3 linked regions of the Homo sapiens genome follow. Changing the gene in region 3 together with the main gene of any one other region gives a genetic interaction. Each region holds a gene or a part of one and is shown on either strand. Other genes may lie near its edges. The genes, in order: RBBP4, RUVBL1 and GEMIN5.

The links.
Region 1: changes in GEMIN5 (region 3) and RBBP4 together harm fitness less than expected from each alone (positive genetic interaction), as found in Homo sapiens cells (one large-scale study listed by BioGRID).
Region 2: changes in GEMIN5 (region 3) and RUVBL1 together harm fitness less than expected from each alone (positive genetic interaction), as found in Homo sapiens cells (one large-scale study listed by BioGRID).

What each region holds. Positions count from the first base shown.
Region 1 is NC_000001.11:32,657,579-32,661,233, reverse strand, and holds part of RBBP4 (histone-binding protein RBBP4), read right to left. Parts: intron 1-3,655. UniProt on the Homo sapiens protein: Core histone-binding subunit that may target chromatin assembly factors, chromatin remodeling factors and histone deacetylases to their histone substrates in a manner that is regulated by nucleosomal DNA.
Region 2 is NC_000003.12:128,117,268-128,120,922, reverse strand, and holds part of RUVBL1 (ruvB-like 1), read left to right. Parts: intron 1-1,508; coding exon 1,509-1,595; intron 1,596-3,655. UniProt on the Homo sapiens protein: Possesses single-stranded DNA-stimulated ATPase and ATP-dependent DNA helicase (3' to 5') activity; hexamerization is thought to be critical for ATP hydrolysis and adjacent subunits in the ring-like structure contribute to the ATPase activity.
Region 3 is NC_000005.10:154,889,996-154,893,300, forward strand, and holds part of GEMIN5 (gem-associated protein 5), read right to left. Parts: intron 2,555-3,305; coding exon 2,392-2,554; intron 1,748-2,391; coding exon 1,246-1,747; intron 1-1,245. UniProt on the Homo sapiens protein: The SMN complex catalyzes the assembly of small nuclear ribonucleoproteins (snRNPs), the building blocks of the spliceosome, and thereby plays an important role in the splicing of cellular pre-mRNAs.

The sequences.
Region 1 (3,655 bases), on a different chromosome or scaffold from region 3:
ATTGTTCTACAAAAAAGACACGTGCACTTGTATGTTCACTGTAGCATTATTCACAATACCAAAGATACGGAAATCAACCCAAGTGTCCATCAATGGTTGACTGAATAAAAAAATTTTTTTGGCTGAGTATAGTGGCTCATGCCTATAAGCCCAGAACTTTGGGAAGCCAAAGTGGGTGAATTGCAAGAGCCCAGGAGTTTTCAGACCAGCCTGGGCAACGTGGTGAGACCTACTCTCTACAAAAAATACAATGGAAATCAGCTGGGCATGGTGGCGCATGCCTGCAATCCCAGCTACTCAGGACGCTGAGGCAGGAGGACTGCTTGAGCCCAGGAGGCAGAGGTTGCAGTAAGCGGGGATTGTGTGACTGCACTCCAGCCTGGGTGACAAAGCAAGACTCCGCCTCAAAATAACAACAAAAACTCAATCATTTAGGAAAAAAAGGCTGGATTCTGATTCCATACCAAATACCAGAATGACAAAAGTTTTAATGGCCCAAACATAAAAGTCCCAGAAGACAACAATAGATGAACACATACTTTATGAAATCATTGAATGGGAGGTCTGAGGTGGGAAGATTGAGGCCAGAGTTCCAGATCAGCCTGAGCAACATAGTGACATGCCATCTCTTAAAAAAAAAAAAAATTAAGTTATCTGGGTGTGGTGGTGGGCGCCTGTAATCCCAGCTACTTGGGAGGCTGAATCAGGAGAATAGCTTGAATCTGGGAGACGGAGGTTGCAGTGAGCAGAGATTGCGCCACTGCACTACAGCCTGGGCGACAGAGCCAGACTCCGACTCAAAAAAAATAAATAAATAAAATAAAAATCCAGGTATGGTGGTGTATGTCTGTAGCCAGAGCTACTTGGGAGGCATAGGTGGGAGGATCGTTTGAGCCCATAAGGAGGCTGCAGTCAGCTAAGATCATGCCAGTGCACTCCAGTCTGGGTGACAGAGCAAGGCTCCATTAAAAAAGCAACTTACAGCTTCTAACCAATAACAGGACTTAAGATTTTAAGTTAAACAAGAAAATGATCTGCACCTATTTATTGGGTGGAGAAGGTATAATTTACCTTATATGAAGAGGTAACTCAAAAGGAAATACGGGCAAAAAACATAAATAAACAGGAGATGTAAGCTCAACATCACAAATAAAAAAAGCAATGTAAACTTGAGAATGAACTCTACTGAGTCCAGTGTTGGCAAAGGCATGGAGAAACAGACATAAATACATACGCTGTTGTGGGACTTCAAATCTTTTTCTGGAGTGCAACTTAGCAGTATCAATTATATTAAAAAACGGTCCTGCCCTTTGATACAACATTCTACTTAGAAAGTATTTCTATAGCAAAACTATGCTTTTGAAGTCAAAAAATTAGAAACCATCTAAATGTCTATCAGTAAGGAATAGTTAATTATGGTCTACTATACAGCCATCAAAAGGAGGCAGGTCTCCATCTACTAACAAAGATACATGCCCCAGATATATTAGGCCATAAAAGCAAATTATGAACCTATATTGCATATTCTATACCTGGCATACAAAATTACTCAACATATTTGTTGAATGAGTGATCCAATACACAGGATAAATCCTTCAGAAAACAATACATCACAATACATCCATTTAAGTGATATCCAGGGGAAAGGTTTTTCTTTTGTTTTGTTTTTGAGACGGAGTTTCCCTTTTTTTTTTTGCCCAGGCTGGAGTGCAATGGTGAGATCTCGGCTCACTGCAATCTCTGCCTCCCGGGTTCAAGTGATGCTCTTGCCTCAGCCTCCTGAGTAGCTGGGATTACAGGTGCGTGCCACTGCACATGGCTAATTTTGTATTTTTAGTAGAGACAGGGTTTCACTATGTTGGCCAGGCTGGTCTTGAACTCCTGACCTCAAGTGATCCACTGGTCTCAGCCTCCCAAAGTGCTGGGATTACAGGAGTGACTCACCGCACCCGGCCAGGGAAAGGTTTATTATATGGGAGAAGGGGTGCGTTTTTTACATTGTGTGTAAAATTACATATATATGTAAAACCACATATATGTGTGTGTATACATTTATATTGTGTGTGTGTAAAATTACATATATTTTATATATATAAAATTTATATGTATATATAAATTATATATATTACACACAATATAAATATATACACATGTAGTTTTACATATATAATTTATATATTTATATATAAATATAATACATTTATATTATCTAAAATTATATATAACTATATTTTACACACAATATATACACGCATGTAGTTTTACATATACATACATATATACGTATGTTTATATATAAATATAACATTTATATTGTGTAAAATTACACATATAATTTTACACACACAATATAAATATATACACACACATATATGTAGTTTTACAATTTATCACACTACCAATCAGAGTATTTGTGCCTCAGTAACAAGAACAAAAGGCAGGAGGATCATTTGAGGTCCGGAGTTCGAGACCAGCCTGACCAACATGATGAAACCCTGTCTCTACTAAAAATACAAAAAATTAGCCAGGCGTGGTGGTGCATGCCTGTAGTCCCAGCTGCTTGGGAGGCTGAGGCAGGAGAATCGCTTGAACCTGGGAGGTGGAGGTTGCAGTGAACTGAGATCGCGCCACTGCACTCCAGCCTGGGCAGCAGAGCGAGACTCCATCTCCAAAAAAAAAAAAAGGAAAGCGTTTAAGCATTTCATGAGCAGTTAAACCCTTAGGTTATGGCCTAAAAACAGGATATAATTAAACAACTCATTGGAACTTAGTTTCTATACACATAGAGAGTGCCATGGTTAAGTCATTTCTACCACTTTAAACCTAGAAAGGGTAATTTAAGTTAGTGTTTCTCAACCTTTTTTTTTTTTTTACTATTGCTCCTCTAAGAACTCTTTTAAGAACTATTCCCTCCCCACCAGTCCCATGAAATTTTAATACCATAGATATCCTATGTCCTCTGTGCATATCTGTGCTTTAAACAATCAACCAGTAAGATTATTTACACCTACTCACATACACAAACCAATTTTCACCTCCTTAGGGGTAGTTATCTCCCGTGTTAAGAATGTATAGCAATATGGATGGGTGCAGTGGCTCACGCCTGTAATTCCAGCACTCTGAGAGGCTGAGGTGGGTGGATCACCTGAGGTCAGGAGTTCAAGACCAGCCTGGCCAACTTGGTGAAACCCTGTCTCCACTAAAAATACAAAAATTAACTAGGCGTGGTGGCGGGCGCCTGTAATCCCAGCTACTCAGGAGGATGAGGCAGAAGAATCGCTTGAACCCGGGAGGCGGAGGTTGCAGTGAGAGAAGATCGTGCCACTACACTCCAACCTAGGCAATAGAGCGAGACTGAGTAAAAAAATAAAAAATCAAGAATGTACAGCAATAATATATATTTTTGCTTCTTTCAATTGCAGAAATCCTCCCCACCAGCACCAGCTGAGAAAAGTTTATTGTGAAGGTACAGAACCAAGGATGTGTTAAGTATTTCTTCTGATACCTAAAACTCTAATATAAATATAAATACCTACCATTGCAAACTCAGGCTTTCCCTCAACCTTAAATATTGTTTCTAAAGTCAGAGTTTACTTTATCAAAGTGCACATAACAGATATGACCCACACATCTTTACTTCTTTCACCTTTAAGAT
Region 2 (3,655 bases), on a different chromosome or scaffold from region 3:
TGCAAGCTCCGCCTCCTGGGTTCACGCCATTCTTCTGCCTCAGCCTCCCGAGTAGCAGGTGGATTACATGGTCGGGAGATTGAGACCATCCCGGCTAACATGGTGAAACCCCTTCTCTACTAAAAATACAAGAAATTAGCTAGGCATGGTGGCAGGCGCCTGTAGTCCTTACATATTTTTTGAGGGGCTGCCATAAGTGTGGGACCAAGGTACTTCACAGTCCATGAGGAATAGAGGTAGAAGAGATAAGATGTATTCACAAGACTCTGGCACAGTGTGGTCACTGCCCAGAGAGAAGAGCACCTTTTAGATAGTCACGTATTCAGTTATTAAATCAGTGTAGCAAACCTTATATTATGTAATCCTGAGATATAGATGCTCAGCTAGTGTAACTTTCTCAGTGTTCCCCCCTTATAGTCAAATATTCTAAAATATATGAAGTTCCATAGCCCATTTATGGAATATGTGTGTGTATATATACACACATGTGTACTGCAAATGGTTAATAAAATTCAGAGATTTATAATGTATTTAAAATATACTAACAGATGATAAAGTAATTTAACCTTGAGGATTCAAAACATATTCAATGGATCTAATAGTGCCATAGGTTTAACTTCACATTCAGTATTTACAGTGTTCACTGATGGCCAGCTAGTACTCTATGTCATTGATTCTTACCCCTTAATAGGTTACTCTGGGAATTTGATGAAAGCTATGGATCCTTTCTCTGGAAAAAATGTATATATGAACATAAACACAGTTTCGTTCCCAACTTCAAGAGGTATTTGGGCCCCTGGCGTCTATCCCTGTACCCTGGGCCAAAAATCAGTGTTCCCACTTGTACTCATACTGTGCATTCTTCACACAGTAGTAGCTAGCACCATCTTTTAAAAACAAATCATAGCATGACACATAGTCTTCAAGACCTTTTCAGTGGCTTTGTATTATTTATGTAGAATAAAATCCAAACTTTACCACACACTGTAAGTTCCTGTTCTGCGTTCTGGCCGCTGTCTACCTCTTCAACCTCATCTTCCTGGTCTTTTTCGCTATACTTTGGTCACTGCAACCTTTCTGTCCCTTGGATATGCCAAGCTTGTTTCTGCTTTGGATTTTCTGAATTCGCTGTTTTCTTTGCCTGGAACGCTGACTCCTGCTCCTCCCAGAGGTTCACATATCAAATTAAATGTCATCAGAAAGACACTCCAGGATCACTTTCTAGCCACTCGTTCTCTCTCATCATCCCTTTTTCTTCATAGTAGTGATGAAGATTATGTGTGCAATGTTTGTATGTTTGTATCCCTCCCTAAAACATGAGCTCCACAAGTACAAGGCTTTTCTGCCTTGCCTTCGTTACCCTCGGCACCTAGAACAGTGACTGCAGTGCACTGGCACTCAGTGTTAGTTGGATGAGTGTGTGACTTGTGTAGGCCAGGGACTGAGATTTTTCCCCTTGTGAAACATTTTAATATTGATTTATTATTTCTTTCCATTGTGGTGTGTAGGCATGTGGCGTCATAGTAGAATTAATCAAAAGCAAGAAAATGGCTGGAAGAGCTGTCTTGTTGGCAGGACCTCCTGGAACTGGCAAGGTACTCATTTTCTCTCATTTTTTAAATCTACCCAGGAGAATGATCCTAGTGTCTAAGCCAAATTGAATTCATGTCTTAACTAGTCTTTGTTTAGCTAAATGGGTTATATGTATGTTTTTAAAATTAATATGCAATAATACAATTGGGTATCTAAAATCCCTGCTTCTAAAATTCAAATTATCCTGGCCTACCTCCAGAGAAGAAAGAATGAAGTCCTTGAAGGGGTCTCATTGTCTCTAGAATTTGTCCTTTTTCTCTTTCAAGTCTCCTTTGCTGTGGAAATACATTTCTGTTGGCCTAGGGCTTCATAAAGATCTTCTGAGTGACATCTTACTTGAGGGGACAAAAAAATGAGTCAAGCATTCTTCCAAATGCTAGCTTTACGCATCGCTATTGTGGCTGTGTGGGAGATGAAAAAAAGGAAAACAAGAATTAGAGACATGATTTTTATCTTCAAGGGGCTTACAGTCTCTCCAGGGCAGAAAGAAAGGAAATCATGACAGCACAGGAGGACTCAGTATGAGTGCTCAGCTTTGAGGTATTGACTAATATTAAATGCAGCTGGAATTTAAGGAGGCAGCACTGTGGGCTGGTACAGCTGGAAGGGTTGAGACTTGACATTTTCCCTTCAGAGCTGGGAGAGGATTTGGCTTTGCAGGGAAGATAAGGGCCTTTCAGGCAGAGGACACCGTGTGGCTTCTTGGGATTCGTGAGGGGACTGGCCAGATACTTGAAACTCACCAGAGTTCCCAATTTGAGCTTGCTTATTCTTCAAAAGGGCCGCTTGATGTGGGCAAGTAGGAGCTTGGGGTTGTGTGTGAAAAGAAATGGGCTTTAAATTCCAGCTCTAGTATTGACTTGCTATGAGACCTGAGGCAGGTCCCTTAACTTTTCTAAGCAAAAGCATACTCTACCTATTTCAAGCAATTATTAAACTGATCGATTGTAAGATAATGACTTGCATTATAATTTTGAAATGATTACTGATTGTGTATCTTATATTGGTATCTTACAAGAGGAAGAAGTGCTATATTTGTGAACAGTTTTTTCTCTTCCTATATAAAAGCAAATTGTGAACAGTTTTTTAAACTGTAAAGTGCCATACAGATGTGAGCTTCAGTTACCTCTCTCCAGGCAACATTAGCTTGTCCAGTGCATTTACCATTTATTTGCTTGCTATTCCTTATATCTTAGACCTTCTCTTTCCCTCCATTTTTCTTCTTCCTAAAGTAAATAATTTAGAAATTTCTTCTAGAAGTTTGTTGGTGGGAAAGTCTCTCACGTTTGCATTCATTATGTTGCCCTTGTTTTGAAAAAGAGCTATGTTGGCTATATAATTCAGTTGACAGATATTTTCTTCAGTACTGTTTCACAGTACTTCTCTCTCAATGTTATTTGCTCCTTTGGCTTCTGTTGTTTTTGAGAAGTCTAATTTTGAGGGTTTTGAGTCTTCTTTCTGCATGTTTTTGAGATATTTTTGGGTTTGGTGTTTCACTATTATATGTCAGAGTGGATTAATTTTTGTTTATCATGCTTAATGCTAATTGTGCTTCTTGAATCTGAGTATTATGTCTCTGCTCAATTCTGGAAAATTGTCAGCCTTAGGAGAATCGCTTGAACCTGGGAGGCAGAGGTATCAGTGAGCCAAGATCATGCCATTGCACTCTAGCCTGGGTGACAGAGCAAGACTACGTCTCAAAAAAAAAAAAAACAAAAAAACTGTCAGCGTTAATCTCTTCAGCTATTGCCTTTCCCCATTCTCTTTGTTCTTTCCTTCTGGAACTCCACTGAGATGAGGTTAAGATTGCAGTGGTTTTCAACCTGGGGCAGTTTTGCCCTTGCAGGGGACTTTGACAACGTCTGGAGACATTTTTGGTTCTCACGACTTGGTTGGGGGTGCTACTGGCATCTAGTGGGTGGAGGCCAGGGATGCTACTAAACATCCTGTAGTGCACAGAGCAGTTTCCATAATAAGGAATTATCTGGCCACAAACGTCATGGAGTCAAGCTGAGAAACCCTGGGCTAGAGCTTCTCGTTTTGTCCTCTTTGTCTTTTAGCC
Region 3 (3,305 bases):
TGGATCCTATGGTCATTCTATTTTACATTTCTGGAGGAAGTGCTGCTGTACTGTTTTCCACAGTGGCTGCATCATTTTACATTCCCACCAATAGGCACAAGGGTTCCAATGTCTCTGCATCCTCCTCAACACTTGTTCTGTTTCTCTGATAGTAGCCTAATGGCTATGAAGTGCTGCTTCACTGTAGTTTTGATTTGCATTTCCCCAATGATGAGATGTTGAGCATCATTTCCTGTGCTTACTGGCTTTTTAGAGAAATGTCTATTCAAGTCCTTTGCCCATCCTTGAATTGGATTATCTTTTGTTATGCCTGGGTAGCTTTTACCTTTTATTTTTAATATTTTTTAAAAATTTAAACTTTTGCCTATGACACAGCCCTCAGGAGGCCCTGAGAGCATATGCCCCTGCCTGGGTTACTTTTATCTCATTTTATAAATAAAATTCCTTTGTCACCTGGCTTCTTAAAATTTAATTTTTTTTTTTTTTTTTTGTAGAGACAGGGTCTGTCAACCAGGCTGGTATGAGTGGCATGATCGTATCTCACTACAGCCTCGAACTCCTGGGCTTAAGTGATCCTCCCACCTCAGCCTCCTGAGTAGCTGGGACTACAAGTGCATGCCACCACTACTGGCTAATTTAAAAAAATTAATTTTTCTAGAGACAGGGTCTCAATATGTAGCCCAGGCTGAACTTGAGCTCCTGGCCTCAAGTGATCCTCCTGCCTCAGCCTCCTAAGTAGCTACAGGGTACATGCCACCACACCTGGTTACTTTATTTGTATTTTTTGAGATGAAGTCTCCCTCTGTTGCCCAGGCTGGAGTGCACTGGTGCGATTTTGACTCACTGCAACCTCTGCTGCCCAGGTTCAAACGATTCTCTGGCCTCAGCCCCCCAAGTAGCTGGAATTACAGGCATGTGCCACCATACCCAGCTAATTTTTAGTAGAGACGGGGTTTCACCATGTTGGCCAGGCTGGTCTCAAACTCCTTACTTCAAGTGATCTGCCCACCTCGGCCTCCCAAAGTGCTGGGATTACAAGCGTGATCCACTGTGCCCGGGCTTTTTTTTTTTTTTTTTTTTTGTAGAGACAGGGTCTCGCTTTTTTGCCCGGGCTGGTGGTGAACTCCTGGGCCAAGTGATCCTCCTGCTTCAGCCTCCCAAAGTGCTGGGATTATAGGCATGAACCACTGTTCCTAGCCAGCAGGGTCATTTTTCATTCCGTCTTGTACTTGCCTCAGTACTTACCACTGGCTCTGAGAACTGCAGAGGGGCTGCTCTGCTTCTACTTCCGGTTCATTCTTATCAGGACCATTTGCTGTGGATTTACAGAGTTGACTCTTTTGGTGTTGTCGGATCATTTCTGCCAAGGTCTCTTGGACTTCAGCAACAGTTCTCTGTGAGTTTTGGAGACTGGCATGCTTTTCTGAAAAGAGCTCCTTAAAAGTACTCAGCATTCGCTCACCTTCTTCTGTGAGTCTCAAGTCTAGTTCTGAAGGCCTGTTTGGCTCTGGCTGAGAAGTTTCAGGGTCCGTTTCTTCAGTGCTGGCAGTGTCTAACTGCTGGCTTGGCTCAACAGAGAGTGTTCTGTGACCAGCCCTTACCCAGACACTGGAATTTGGGCAAGGTCTGGAGAGAGACCACCAGAATTCATACAGACGCCCATAAAGAAAAAAGGCCTCCAAACTTTTGAAAGCTGGTGTGGCAGGGGATTGATGGTCCCCCAACTTGTCTCTTAGGTGGTCACAGCCTAGGAAAAGAGGAAAAAGATACTGGGTCATGCATTTCTCTAGTTGCCAGAAATGTGGCTTCCTGCCCTTATGTTCTATTTCTTATCAACCAAGAAGCAGACCCCAGGAAAAAGGACAACAGTGTGATCCACCGGGCCACATGCCTTTCCACCAAGAGCCAACTGGAGGCTAAACATTTCCTGGCTTGCGACAGTGTTCTCATTACTACATCCTAGGAGTCATTCAAAGCATGATAGAGTATTCCATTTGTACTACTGAAGGCTCTGGGGCCACGACAACAGATCACACTGTCTCTCTGAAAAATCACAATGATTTAGTTCAGTGACTGACTATGCAGCCCAAGGAATGTCTATCTTTTTTGCTGTTCTTTTCTGTTCTTACTAACATGTAACTACATTCCTATTTCTCTCTCCCTTAAACTTTGTGGAAAGTGGACAGGAGGCTGTAAGAGGGTAGGGCCAGGTAAAGGAAACAGTATAGTTGTTCTTAAAAGCTTCGGTAAGAGAATCCAAACTTTCTACTAAAATGACACAGCTGGCCAATCTCCATCTTTTAAGAATCTAGGTACTCCCAGTGCCACACCACTAATGGTGGTGATGTTGTCCATTAAAGGGTGTGCCTCAGGCAGCAGGAAGTCACTTACCGTCAGGGAGAAAGGCTGAGTACACTTCCTGCATGATGGTGAAGCTCCCTGAGTCATAGCTCCGGACCACCGCCCGAAGGAGCGCCTGCACAGCCTCGTCCCAGGAGGCCATCTGTTGGCTCAGCACTGCCAGGGTCAAGTCATGGCAAATGTGAAGCAGGAGCTGGAGAGAGAAGCCAGAGTCTGAGTTAAACATCCTCCCACGGTAGGCGCAGAGGATGCCACCAAACTGTTCCTGTGAACCGCATTTGGAAACAAGTACACACAATTCACACTTTGAAAGTTCCTCTTGTCTCCGCCACCCATTTTTGCTTCCCACATCGGAAACTCTCATGTCTAGTTGCACAGCAGCACACACACGTCCCGGTGTTAAAGTCTGTTCACACTGAGAAAACACCTTTACATTTGCATTTAATTAAAACAAAAAGTGGGCCAGGCGCGGTGGCTCATGCCTGTAATCCCAGCACTTTGGGAGGCCAAGGTGGGCAGATCACAAGGTCAGGAGTTCAAGACCAGCCTGGCCAACATGGTGAAACCCCGCCTCTACTAAAAACACAAAAATTAGCCAGGCATGATGGCGCGTGCCTGTAGTCCCAGCTACTCGGGAGGCTGAGACAGAAGAATTGCTTGAACCCGGAAGGTGGAGGTTGTGGTGAGCTGAGATTGCGCCACTGCACTCCAGTCTGAGCATGAGAGTGAGACTCCCTCTCAAAACAAACAAACAAACAACAAAAACAAAAAGTGAGTTTCTGGAACTAAAAGCTGTAATTAAAAACAAAATAAAGGCTGGGTGCAGTTGCTCACACCTATAACCCCATCACTTTGGGAGGCTGAGGCGGGCGGATCACCCGAGGTGAAAGCCCGTCTCTAAAAAAAAAAAAAAAAAAAAAAAAATTAGCCGGGCTTGGTGGTGC